Homo sapiens: one gene and its partners. The protein of the gene in region 1 interacts with the protein of each later gene in a biochemical or structural test. Each region holds a gene or a part of one and is shown in the gene's direction. Other genes may lie near its edges. The genes, in order: PPP5C, CSNK1D and ESR1.

Evidence for each region.
Region 2: of the proteins of PPP5C (region 1) and CSNK1D, one has a biochemical effect on the other in vitro, tested with the Homo sapiens proteins (one study listed by BioGRID).
Region 3: the proteins of PPP5C (region 1) and ESR1 form a complex in vitro, tested with the Homo sapiens proteins (one study listed by BioGRID).

The regions. Positions count from the first base shown.
Region 1 is NC_000019.10:46,349,994-46,353,642, forward strand, and holds part of PPP5C (serine/threonine-protein phosphatase 5), read left to right. Parts: intron 1-3,649. UniProt on the Homo sapiens protein: Serine/threonine-protein phosphatase that dephosphorylates a myriad of proteins involved in different signaling pathways including the kinases CSNK1E, ASK1/MAP3K5, PRKDC and RAF1, the nuclear receptors NR3C1, PPARG, ESR1 and ESR2, SMAD proteins and TAU/MAPT.
Region 2 is NC_000017.11:82,246,063-82,249,711, reverse strand, and holds part of CSNK1D (casein kinase I isoform delta), read left to right. Parts: exon of another isoform or gene 1-14; intron 15-109; coding exon 110-281; intron 282-697; coding exon 698-837; coding exon of another isoform or gene 838-993; exon of another isoform or gene 994-3,240; intron 3,241-3,246; coding exon of another isoform or gene 3,247-3,348; exon of another isoform or gene 3,349-3,514; intron 3,515-3,649. UniProt on the Homo sapiens protein: Essential serine/threonine-protein kinase that regulates diverse cellular growth and survival processes including Wnt signaling, DNA repair and circadian rhythms. It can phosphorylate a large number of proteins.
Region 3 is NC_000006.12:152,100,618-152,103,813, forward strand, and holds the end of ESR1 (estrogen receptor), read left to right. Parts: 3' UTR 1-2,657; downstream 2,658-3,196.

The DNA.
Region 1 (3,649 bases):
GAAGGAGCCAGGGCTTTCTGGGGTGGGGTGGCGGTGGGGGGTGGGGCTCTGGGGAGCCCTGGGAGGTTCTGAGTAGGGAAAGGACAGGGTCAGGTTTGTGTTTTAGGAACACCCCTCTGGAGGGGCAGGACAAGAGGCTGCGAGGCCAGGTGGAGGCTGAGCCAGGAACCTGGGCAGGAGAGGCCAGACCAGGGCTGGGTGGGGCTGGAGGGTGAGAAGGGAGTGGCTGAATCTGAGAGATGTTCAGGAGGCTGACTTGGCAGAATAAGTGAAGTGACTACCGGGCTTTGGGGGCTGAGGGATGGAGAGGAGTCCAGGATGAGGCTGTCTCAGCCAGGTGATGGGGTGGAAGGTGGAATTCCCTGGGATGGGAGCAGCCTGCATGGGGGTTGCTGCTGAGGCCGCATCAGAATTCTGGGCCACAGCAGCCATTGGGAGGAGCCTGTTGCCCCCCAGGACCTGGGATCCAGGCTCTCAGGAGTCCTGGGGCTGGGCAGGCAGCCAGAGGGGCCTGGCACTGAGCTGGCACGGAGGAGAACGGCCCTGCTGGCCCAGGCCCCTTGCTGTCTGTCAGGCAGTAGCAGGCACAGAGCCCCAGGCTCCAGGGCTGTGGGAATAACAATAAAAAAGAATAATGACAGCTCACCTTAATTGAGCCTTGTGGCCAGGTACGCTGTGGGGTTTAATCCTCCCCGGGGGCTGGGAGATGGCTAGGAGTGGCCCTGTTTGTTTTATAAAGGAAGCAAGGCTCGGAGAAGTGAAAAAACCACTCGCCCAAGGTCAGAGTGTGTGAGCAGCAGGGCCCGGATATCCCCTTCCTCGCCACGTGCTTGGCTCCCACGTTCAGGTTCCTCCCAGAGCTGTACTGGCCCTGTTGAGGAGAAGAGGGGCCCCAGCAGGGAGAAGAGAGGTCCCAGGGCTCAGAGGACTGTCCCCTCAACTGTGGCTGGTTGCTCTGTAAGTTCAGGCCTATTCCAGAAATCCTGGGGGCAGAGCCTCGTCCCCCGTCTCATGTCTGAGTCTAAGGGAAGTGTCTCAACTGTCTTCCCCTCTCTGTGGGCCTCAGTGCCCCGCTTCTGTAAAATGGGGGGTGGGGGCTTATGCTTAACCCCTAAGGAGGCTCCAGGTATAAGAGCTTGTGGGGAGGAAGCAGGCCATGGTTGAGAGCTCAGGCTGCCTGGGTTCAAACCCTATGTCTTCCTTTACCTGCTTGATGACGCCTGGGCAAATGACTTAACTTCTCTGGGCCTCTGTTTCCTTGCATCTAAAATGGGGAATGTCTTGAGGCTTAAATATGGTCCTGTTTGTAAAGCGCATAGAACAGGGCCAGGATATGGCATGTGGGTCGACCCGTGGAGTACAGGCTCCTCCCATTTCCTCTTGTTCCCTTCACTTCCTCCCTTCATTTAGTCATTCACGCATTCACTTCTTTTGCCTGCTTCTTTTGCTGCAGCCAGTTTTCTTACACAAGTTCGTAAAATCCTCACGGCCACCCAGTGAGGCAGAGCTCAGAAAGAGGAGGCTATTTGCCTGCAGCCTCGAGTTAGAGATCTGCAGAGCCGGGTGGCAGGCCCTGAGACTCCAGGATCCCCTCCCTGTGCCACTGGAGTAACAGCTGCCCCATCAGGAGCGCGGGCCAGGCAGCCTCTGGACCACAGCCAGGAGGCCTGAAGGAGTCCTCAAAGGCGCTGGCATTCCAGGGAGGGTCGGTCAGATCTGGGCTGCCCAGTTCTGCCCTTGTTTGTTTTTGGGAAGTCCCGGGCCCTGCCCTCCTGGGGCTTACAGCTCTGGAGGGACACACTCATTACTCAACAGTGACGATGAGAGTGGACAGGGCTGGCACAGGAGATCCCAGGGGCTGGGGCAGCCCAGTCGGGGGCCTGACCCAGCCTGGGAGTAAAGGAGGGCTTCCCGGAGGAGGGGACATGTGAGCATTTGAAAGATTGCCAGGAGTTGGCGTGGCAAAGAGGAATGTTGTTAGATTGTTGCTGGCCACATCCCCAGGACCCGGCTTCTCCCTTCTGTAATGTCAGTCCTCATCTCTCTCTGCATCCCTCCTTCCTTTCCCTCTGGAGCCACTCATGGAGCCTGGGACTCTCTTCTTCCATCTCTTCAACCAACTGACTCCCATCCTCCAGGTCTCAGCCCCAGTGTCCCCTCCGAGCTGCCCCAACCCTAAACACTGGGCACCACTGTCTAGGGATGGATCTGTCTCCTCCACTGGATGGTAAGCCCTGGGAGGGCAGGGCTGTGTGTAAGAAGGACTCTCGGAGTGCTGTTGAGAACATTAAAATGGGAGTGAGGGTGGGGACTCTGTGCAGGGCTGCTGGTAGAAGGACTCTAGGAAACCCTAGTCCACAGGGGGTTCCTCAGTAGCCCAGGGATACCCAGGTAGTAAGAGGCAGAGCTAGGGACTGGGCCCAGGCCACCTACTCCTGCCTCTGTGCTTACCCCTGTGCCACGCTCCTGCCCAGAGGTCACCATGGCATGGGGCGTGAGAGTGGGAGCCTTTTGGTCTTGGCCTGGCTCAGAAGGCCCACTTCTCGGCCAGGCGCTGTGGCTCACGCCTGTAATCCCAGCACTTTGGGAGGCCAAGGCAGGAGGATCACGAGGTCAGGAGATCGAGACCATCCTGGCTAACACGGTGAAACCCCGTCTCTACTAAAAATACAAAAAATTAGCCGGGTATAGTGGCGGGCGCCTATAGTCCCAGCTGCTCGGGGGGCTAAGGCTGGAGAATGGTGTGAACCTGGGAGGCGGAGCTTGCAGTGAGCGGAGATCGCACCGCTGCACTCCAGCCTGGGCGACAGAGCGAGACTCCATCTCAAAAAAAAAAAAAAAAAGAAGGCCCACTTGTCACCTGCTGTGTGACCTTGAGCACCGGCCTTTCTTCCCTGAGCTTCAGTCCCCAGATTTGGAGACGGGGGTTAATGTAGTTTCCCTGGGCTTGTGAGAGTTCAGTGAAGGGGGACCTGTGTACTAAAGCCCTGCATGGCTCTGGTACATCACGGCCCCCAGTGGGGACAAGCCTCTAAGGCTGTTTAAGCCTTGGCTCTCCTGCCTGTCAAATGGGCACGAGGGAGGGATCAAGCCTGGCTCTGCAGGTGCAGACAGGGCATTTGACCTTGAGCAAGACCTCCATGGCTTGTCTGTAAAATGAGCACCAGATGGTCCTTACTCCCGTGGAGACATGAGGATTCCACAGGTCACGAGGTAAAGTGCAGGGTACAGCTATAGCTCATCTCAAATAAAATCCGACCTCTCCTCCTTGGCCAGATGTCACATCCTGTCACTCCACACTTAGAACATCAGTGTCCAGACCTCACTGTGGCTGCCCGGGGCCCAGGGATCTGTCCCACCAGCCTCCCTGCCTCATCTCTCCTCCCCCTGCCCACTCCACCCAGCTGCCTCAGCTCTCACTGGCCCTCAGACAAGGCTCAACCACCTCTGGGCCTCTGCACCTGCTCTTCTTGCTATCGGAGTGCTCTTCCCTCAGTCTGCTGCTAGTGCCCAGCTTGGGGCTGGAGGGGTGGGTGGGCGGGTGTGTGGAGTCCTGGAGACTGTGGCCGAGAGGACAAGCCCTGAGCTAGGTTGGTTGGGACAGGCAGGAGGGGCAGGCTGAAGAGATGTCTCTGGGCTCAGGGTAGCC
Region 2 (3,649 bases), on another chromosome or scaffold:
CCCAGTGCCCTTTGGTAGGTATTTTCTCACGTGGCCGGGGCAGCCTAGGACCTAGGGTTGCTTTCTGCCAAAGCTGGTTCCATTCCGGCCTCACCTCCTGCCTCCTCAGGGTGCCAGCCGGGCCGCCGATGACGCCGAGCGGGAGCGCAGGGACCGAGAGGAGCGGCTGAGACACTCGCGGAACCCGGCTACCCGCGGCCTCCCTTCCACAGCCTCCGGCCGCCTGCGGGGGACGCAGGAAGTGGCTCCCCCCACACCCCTCACCCCTACCTCACACACGGGTGAGTGCCCCCCTCCCAGCGCTCTGGGGCTGGCTCTGGGGTGACTTCTTGTGTCTTGGGGTTGGTGGGGACAACAGGGTACTTGGTGGTGGACACTAAGTGCCCTGTGTCAGGCGATGCTCGCTCCTGAGGGTGGATGAGCCAGGCTGCCCAGGCGCCTTTAGAAATGCCGGCACCTGCTGGTGTGCGTGATTCCTCCCGCATCTCACGTTCCTCCCCTGTGAGCCCCTTGACCTCGCTCCCATGTCCCTTTGTGTCCCTCCGGCCGGATCTGAGTGTTGGTGGCCATCGGCCACAGCCAGGTCCTGACTGTCCAGGCAGCCCAGGGTCCTCTCTGGCCACAGCCTCTCATAGAAAGCCCCGAGTGAGAGGCAGCAGACGGGGGCGGCCCACTCCGTTTCTCTCCCTGTCCTCAGCTAACACCTCCCCCCGGCCCGTCTCCGGCATGGAGAGAGAGCGGAAAGTGAGTATGCGGCTGCACCGCGGGGCCCCCGTCAACATCTCCTCGTCCGACCTCACAGGCCGACAAGATACCTCTCGCATGTCCACCTCACAGGTAGGTGCAGAGCTCCCGGGCGGGCGCTGGGCCTCGGGCTACCCCGTCCGAGTCAAGAGCGGGCTGTGGTTTCTCCAGGGCTTCTTCTTTCCTTTCTTCCCCCCATTTTTGAGAGTTTTTAATCTCGCCAGGGTGTGGCGTCTTGGTTGCAGATGAGGCTTCTCGGGAGGGCCTGGGAGACATGCTGGGCCGTCATGGGGCTTGTCTCCTGGTTGCAGGTGGCCAGTCTCAGGTCTCAGGTCCCTGAGGCCAGCAAACCGTGGGGGCTTTCTCCTGCTGTTTGAGTGCCCCGCTGCCCGCAGCCGTCCCCAGGCAGCTGACACCGCTCGCCTGCTTGCGCCCCATTGTGGGTGCCCCCAGCCCGAGGGAGCCTTCCTCATTCTTCCTCATTCTTGCCACTGGCCAGGGATGGAGGCCCGTAGGGACCTCCACGGGCTTCTTGTGAGACCCTCCCTGGTGGCATGCCCTGCAACGAGGCTTTCCTTCTTTTGACGGCCTCACCTGTCTTCCCTTGGACGAGAAGTACCCTGTTGCGCAGCCCAGGCCTAGCCACGGCCACCGCCTCTTCAGCATCCTGCAGCGGTCTCTCCTCTCCTCGCTCTGGCTTTTGTTGTCTTTTGCGTTTGCTAACGTGCTCTTTGAACTAGAACAGCTTTCTCCATATGGATCCATTATATTTCTTCAAATAGTTTTCTGGGTTGTTCGCCAACAGGGGCAGGGTTAGTGGGGCAGGGCTGTTTCACCAGCAGGCATCCTGGGGGGTGCCCAGATCCCCCACGGGTCTTCCGGATGAGCAGGAACTCAGTTCAGAAATGCCCTGGAGCCTGGCTCTGGGCTTGTGGGGAGGTGTTTGTTGGGATCACAGGATGGAGCCAGGCCTGCTGCCGTGAGCGGGGCTGGGTGTAGCTGGCTAGCCAGGAACATGCCGGAGTGGGGAGCACTCTTGACCACTTGCCGTCTTTTAATGATTGGGGTTTTACTGCACGTTTCTAATTCACTAATAATTTCACTAGAAACAGACCTTTTTGTATAACTTCTTCCCAAAGAGACCAAAGATGCAGGGATTTTGGCTTCGTGGTTATTTTGACTTTGTGGTTATATGAATTGGGCTCGAGGGGTCTGGGCTGCGTCACGAGAATGGGTCCCTTACGTGCACACAACCCTGCTGTCACCTCCAGACACAGCACAGAAAGGGTTTAACTGGCTTCTTTCCACGAGCCTGGCACTTGCGCATCAGTTCCTGTGAGCAGTTCCCGGGAGGGTCTGCCCGTGCCCTCGTGTCTTGATGTGCGGCTGGCTCTGTAGCCCCTGAACCATGGTACAGGAGCCCAGAGTGCTCCCCATGCTGGGTGCTGACCGGACTTGGACAGCCTCGCCCCAGCGCTTGGCTGACAAAGACTAGGGAAGGGGCCTGAGTGCTTTTTGTTTCTTTTAAAGAAAGTAAAGTGTCCAGTGGTTTGGGATCTTTGTGGGCAGTGAAGGTGTCCTGAGCGTGCTGAGTAGCCACAGCCCTGAGTCCAGCTGCCTTTTCTCGGTACACGGCCTTGGCGGCACCTGGGTGTGGCTGTTGTAGCCACCAGCCCCCAAGGTGGCCGTGAGCAGTGTCTCCTTCCATGGTGAGCTGTGGCAGGAACCCGCAGCTGGCTCTTAGGCCCTCGTTTTCCATATGAGGAAATACAACGTGGGCTCTAACAGCAGGGAGGAGTCTCCAGAGAGAGCTGGTTTGGGGGTGTGTTCTCTCCAAAAGAAGCCTCTTGGCCTCTGCTCCTGGACACCCTGGGGGGCCTTCCTGAGAGGCATGTTGAGGGCTCCCCACCTCCAGGGCGGGCCCCCTCCTTTGTCACCATCTCACAGGAAGGCTTTGGCCGTGTGTCCTTCCTGCCAGACTCTGCCAGCACCAGCACACGTGGTGGCTGTGAGCAGCAGCTCCCGTTTTGAATCCCAAGGGGGAATACAGGAGGCTCAATTGCTCTGAGCGCCTCACCTGTTTGCTCGGGTGAGCTGGAGACACAGTCACCGTGGGCAGTGACTCATCCCCGGCCAGTCTTCCTCCTCGGGCCGTCGCTCTTCCCTGTTCTTTCTGCTCCTCTCAGGAGACCTTGCGCCCTGTGGAGATGGGAGGAGGCAGCAGGAAGGTCTCCCAGGGCTTGCTGGCCGTGGCTGGGTGTGGATGGGTGGAAGACCACGTGGCAGCCTGCCTGTAGGTCACAGAGGCCCCCATAGTTGTAGGGCCCCGCCCCAGCCCGGACTCCGCCTGGGTCTGTTCCCTCTTCGCCCCCTCTCTTTTCGGGCTGTTGGTGTTCGGCCAGGGCTCTTTGGCTACAGTAGCCTGGGCCCTAAAGGCCATCTAGTTGCTGAGTCTGTTTGGGGTTTTTACTTGGTGAGAAGAAGGCCTTGTCATTCCAACAGTCGATGACTCGCTTTGATCAACTCCTGCCCAGGACTAGGCCTGAGCCCTGTCGTCGTACCGGCGAGGATGTGCGTCTCCCCTGCCTTCAGGCTGTGCCCTGAGACCCAGTTGTGGGGCTGCCCAGCACCTGCCATCCTGCTGGGATCAGGTTTTCTTAGTGCTTGAGAAGACTCAGGAGGGCCTGTCCCATGCCATTGTTGGCCTTAAGAGCAAGTGATTCCAGAAGAGGAGTGGGCACCACTCTCATCCAGAGGCCCGTCCTGAGAGGCAAGTGAGGCTGTGCTCTGTGCCTGGGCTCCCCCAGGTGGCACCTGTCGGTCTGTGGACCTGGTTGAGGCAAGGATGCCCATCTGGACATGGAGCCGACACAGGTAGTCAGGGGGCCAGCGGGACGCTTACCAA
Region 3 (3,196 bases), on another chromosome or scaffold:
ATTGAAACCCTATTGAGAGGTGATGTCTGTGTTAGCCAATGACCCAGGTGAGCTGCTCGGGCTTCTCTTGGTATGTCTTGTTTGGAAAAGTGGATTTCATTCATTTCTGATTGTCCAGTTAAGTGATCACCAAAGGACTGAGAATCTGGGAGGGCAAAAAAAAAAAAAAAGTTTTTATGTGCACTTAAATTTGGGGACAATTTTATGTATCTGTGTTAAGGATATGTTTAAGAACATAATTCTTTTGTTGCTGTTTGTTTAAGAAGCACCTTAGTTTGTTTAAGAAGCACCTTATATAGTATAATATATATTTTTTTGAAATTACATTGCTTGTTTATCAGACAATTGAATGTAGTAATTCTGTTCTGGATTTAATTTGACTGGGTTAACATGCAAAAACCAAGGAAAAATATTTAGTTTTTTTTTTTTTTTTTGTATACTTTTCAAGCTACCTTGTCATGTATACAGTCATTTATGCCTAAAGCCTGGTGATTATTCATTTAAATGAAGATCACATTTCATATCAACTTTTGTATCCACAGTAGACAAAATAGCACTAATCCAGATGCCTATTGTTGGATACTGAATGACAGACAATCTTATGTAGCAAAGATTATGCCTGAAAAGGAAAATTATTCAGGGCAGCTAATTTTGCTTTTACCAAAATATCAGTAGTAATATTTTTGGACAGTAGCTAATGGGTCAGTGGGTTCTTTTTAATGTTTATACTTAGATTTTCTTTTAAAAAAATTAAAATAAAACAAAAAAAAATTTCTAGGACTAGACGATGTAATACCAGCTAAAGCCAAACAATTATACAGTGGAAGGTTTTACATTATTCATCCAATGTGTTTCTATTCATGTTAAGATACTACTACATTTGAAGTGGGCAGAGAACATCAGATGATTGAAATGTTCGCCCAGGGGTCTCCAGCAACTTTGGAAATCTCTTTGTATTTTTACTTGAAGTGCCACTAATGGACAGCAGATATTTTCTGGCTGATGTTGGTATTGGGTGTAGGAACATGATTTAAAAAAAAACTCTTGCCTCTGCTTTCCCCCACTCTGAGGCAAGTTAAAATGTAAAAGATGTGATTTATCTGGGGGGCTCAGGTATGGTGGGGAAGTGGATTCAGGAATCTGGGGAATGGCAAATATATTAAGAAGAGTATTGAAAGTATTTGGAGGAAAATGGTTAATTCTGGGTGTGCACCAGGGTTCAGTAGAGTCCACTTCTGCCCTGGAGACCACAAATCAACTAGCTCCATTTACAGCCATTTCTAAAATGGCAGCTTCAGTTCTAGAGAAGAAAGAACAACATCAGCAGTAAAGTCCATGGAATAGCTAGTGGTCTGTGTTTCTTTTCGCCATTGCCTAGCTTGCCGTAATGATTCTATAATGCCATCATGCAGCAATTATGAGAGGCTAGGTCATCCAAAGAGAAGACCCTATCAATGTAGGTTGCAAAATCTAACCCCTAAGGAAGTGCAGTCTTTGATTTGATTTCCCTAGTAACCTTGCAGATATGTTTAACCAAGCCATAGCCCATGCCTTTTGAGGGCTGAACAAATAAGGGACTTACTGATAATTTACTTTTGATCACATTAAGGTGTTCTCACCTTGAAATCTTATACACTGAAATGGCCATTGATTTAGGCCACTGGCTTAGAGTACTCCTTCCCCTGCATGACACTGATTACAAATACTTTCCTATTCATACTTTCCAATTATGAGATGGACTGTGGGTACTGGGAGTGATCACTAACACCATAGTAATGTCTAATATTCACAGGCAGATCTGCTTGGGGAAGCTAGTTATGTGAAAGGCAAATAGAGTCATACAGTAGCTCAAAAGGCAACCATAATTCTCTTTGGTGCAGGTCTTGGGAGCGTGATCTAGATTACACTGCACCATTCCCAAGTTAATCCCCTGAAAACTTACTCTCAACTGGAGCAAATGAACTTTGGTCCCAAATATCCATCTTTTCAGTAGCGTTAATTATGCTCTGTTTCCAACTGCATTTCCTTTCCAATTGAATTAAAGTGTGGCCTCGTTTTTAGTCATTTAAAATTGTTTTCTAAGTAATTGCTGCCTCTATTATGGCACTTCAATTTTGCACTGTCTTTTGAGATTCAAGAAAAATTTCTATTCTTTTTTTTGCATCCAATTGTGCCTGAACTTTTAAAATATGTAAATGCTGCCATGTTCCAAACCCATCGTCAGTGTGTGTGTTTAGAGCTGTGCACCCTAGAAACAACATATTGTCCCATGAGCAGGTGCCTGAGACACAGACCCCTTTGCATTCACAGAGAGGTCATTGGTTATAGAGACTTGAATTAATAAGTGACATTATGCCAGTTTCTGTTCTCTCACAGGTGATAAACAATGCTTTTTGTGCACTACATACTCTTCAGTGTAGAGCTCTTGTTTTATGGGAAAAGGCTCAAATGCCAAATTGTGTTTGATGGATTAATATGCCCTTTTGCCGATGCATACTATTACTGATGTGACTCGGTTTTGTCGCAGCTTTGCTTTGTTTAATGAAACACACTTGTAAACCTCTTTTGCACTTTGAAAAAGAATCCAGCGGGATGCTCGAGCACCTGTAAACAATTTTCTCAACCTATTTGATGTTCAAATAAAGAATTAAACTAAAGACAACGAGTTTGTTTTTTGTAAGCTCCACTTCTTGCTAGCAGTTCACCACTGATCCTCTAAAATCAAAGTGGTTAAACGATCTGTCACACACAGTGAGTCTGAATGCTAAAGCCTCTCCTCACCTCACTCCCTCTGCCCAACACCCCCAGGTGTATCAGGAAGTGTGTGGACACTGTGGTCAGGCAGAACTGGCCTCAATTCTTGGCTTCACCACTTACAAATTTTATGATCATTGGCAGTTGATTTTTCAGAGTTTCGGCTTCCTTATCAACAATATGATGATAAGTAATAACACCTAATTCACACGATGGTGGTGAGGACTAACTGAGGTGCTCATTAAACATAGTTGCTGTTTTTTAATGCCTGGCCCAAATCCTTCCCTGTGAGGGAGAAGAAGGATGCTTGAGAGTGGTTATTTATGAATGAATGAGTGAATGGAAGAATGAGTGATCTGAAATGATATAATTAGCTTAAAAACCTCTCCCTCATTCTGAAGGTAAAGCAGGAACAATTGGTCCACCCCCACCCCAGGTTTCC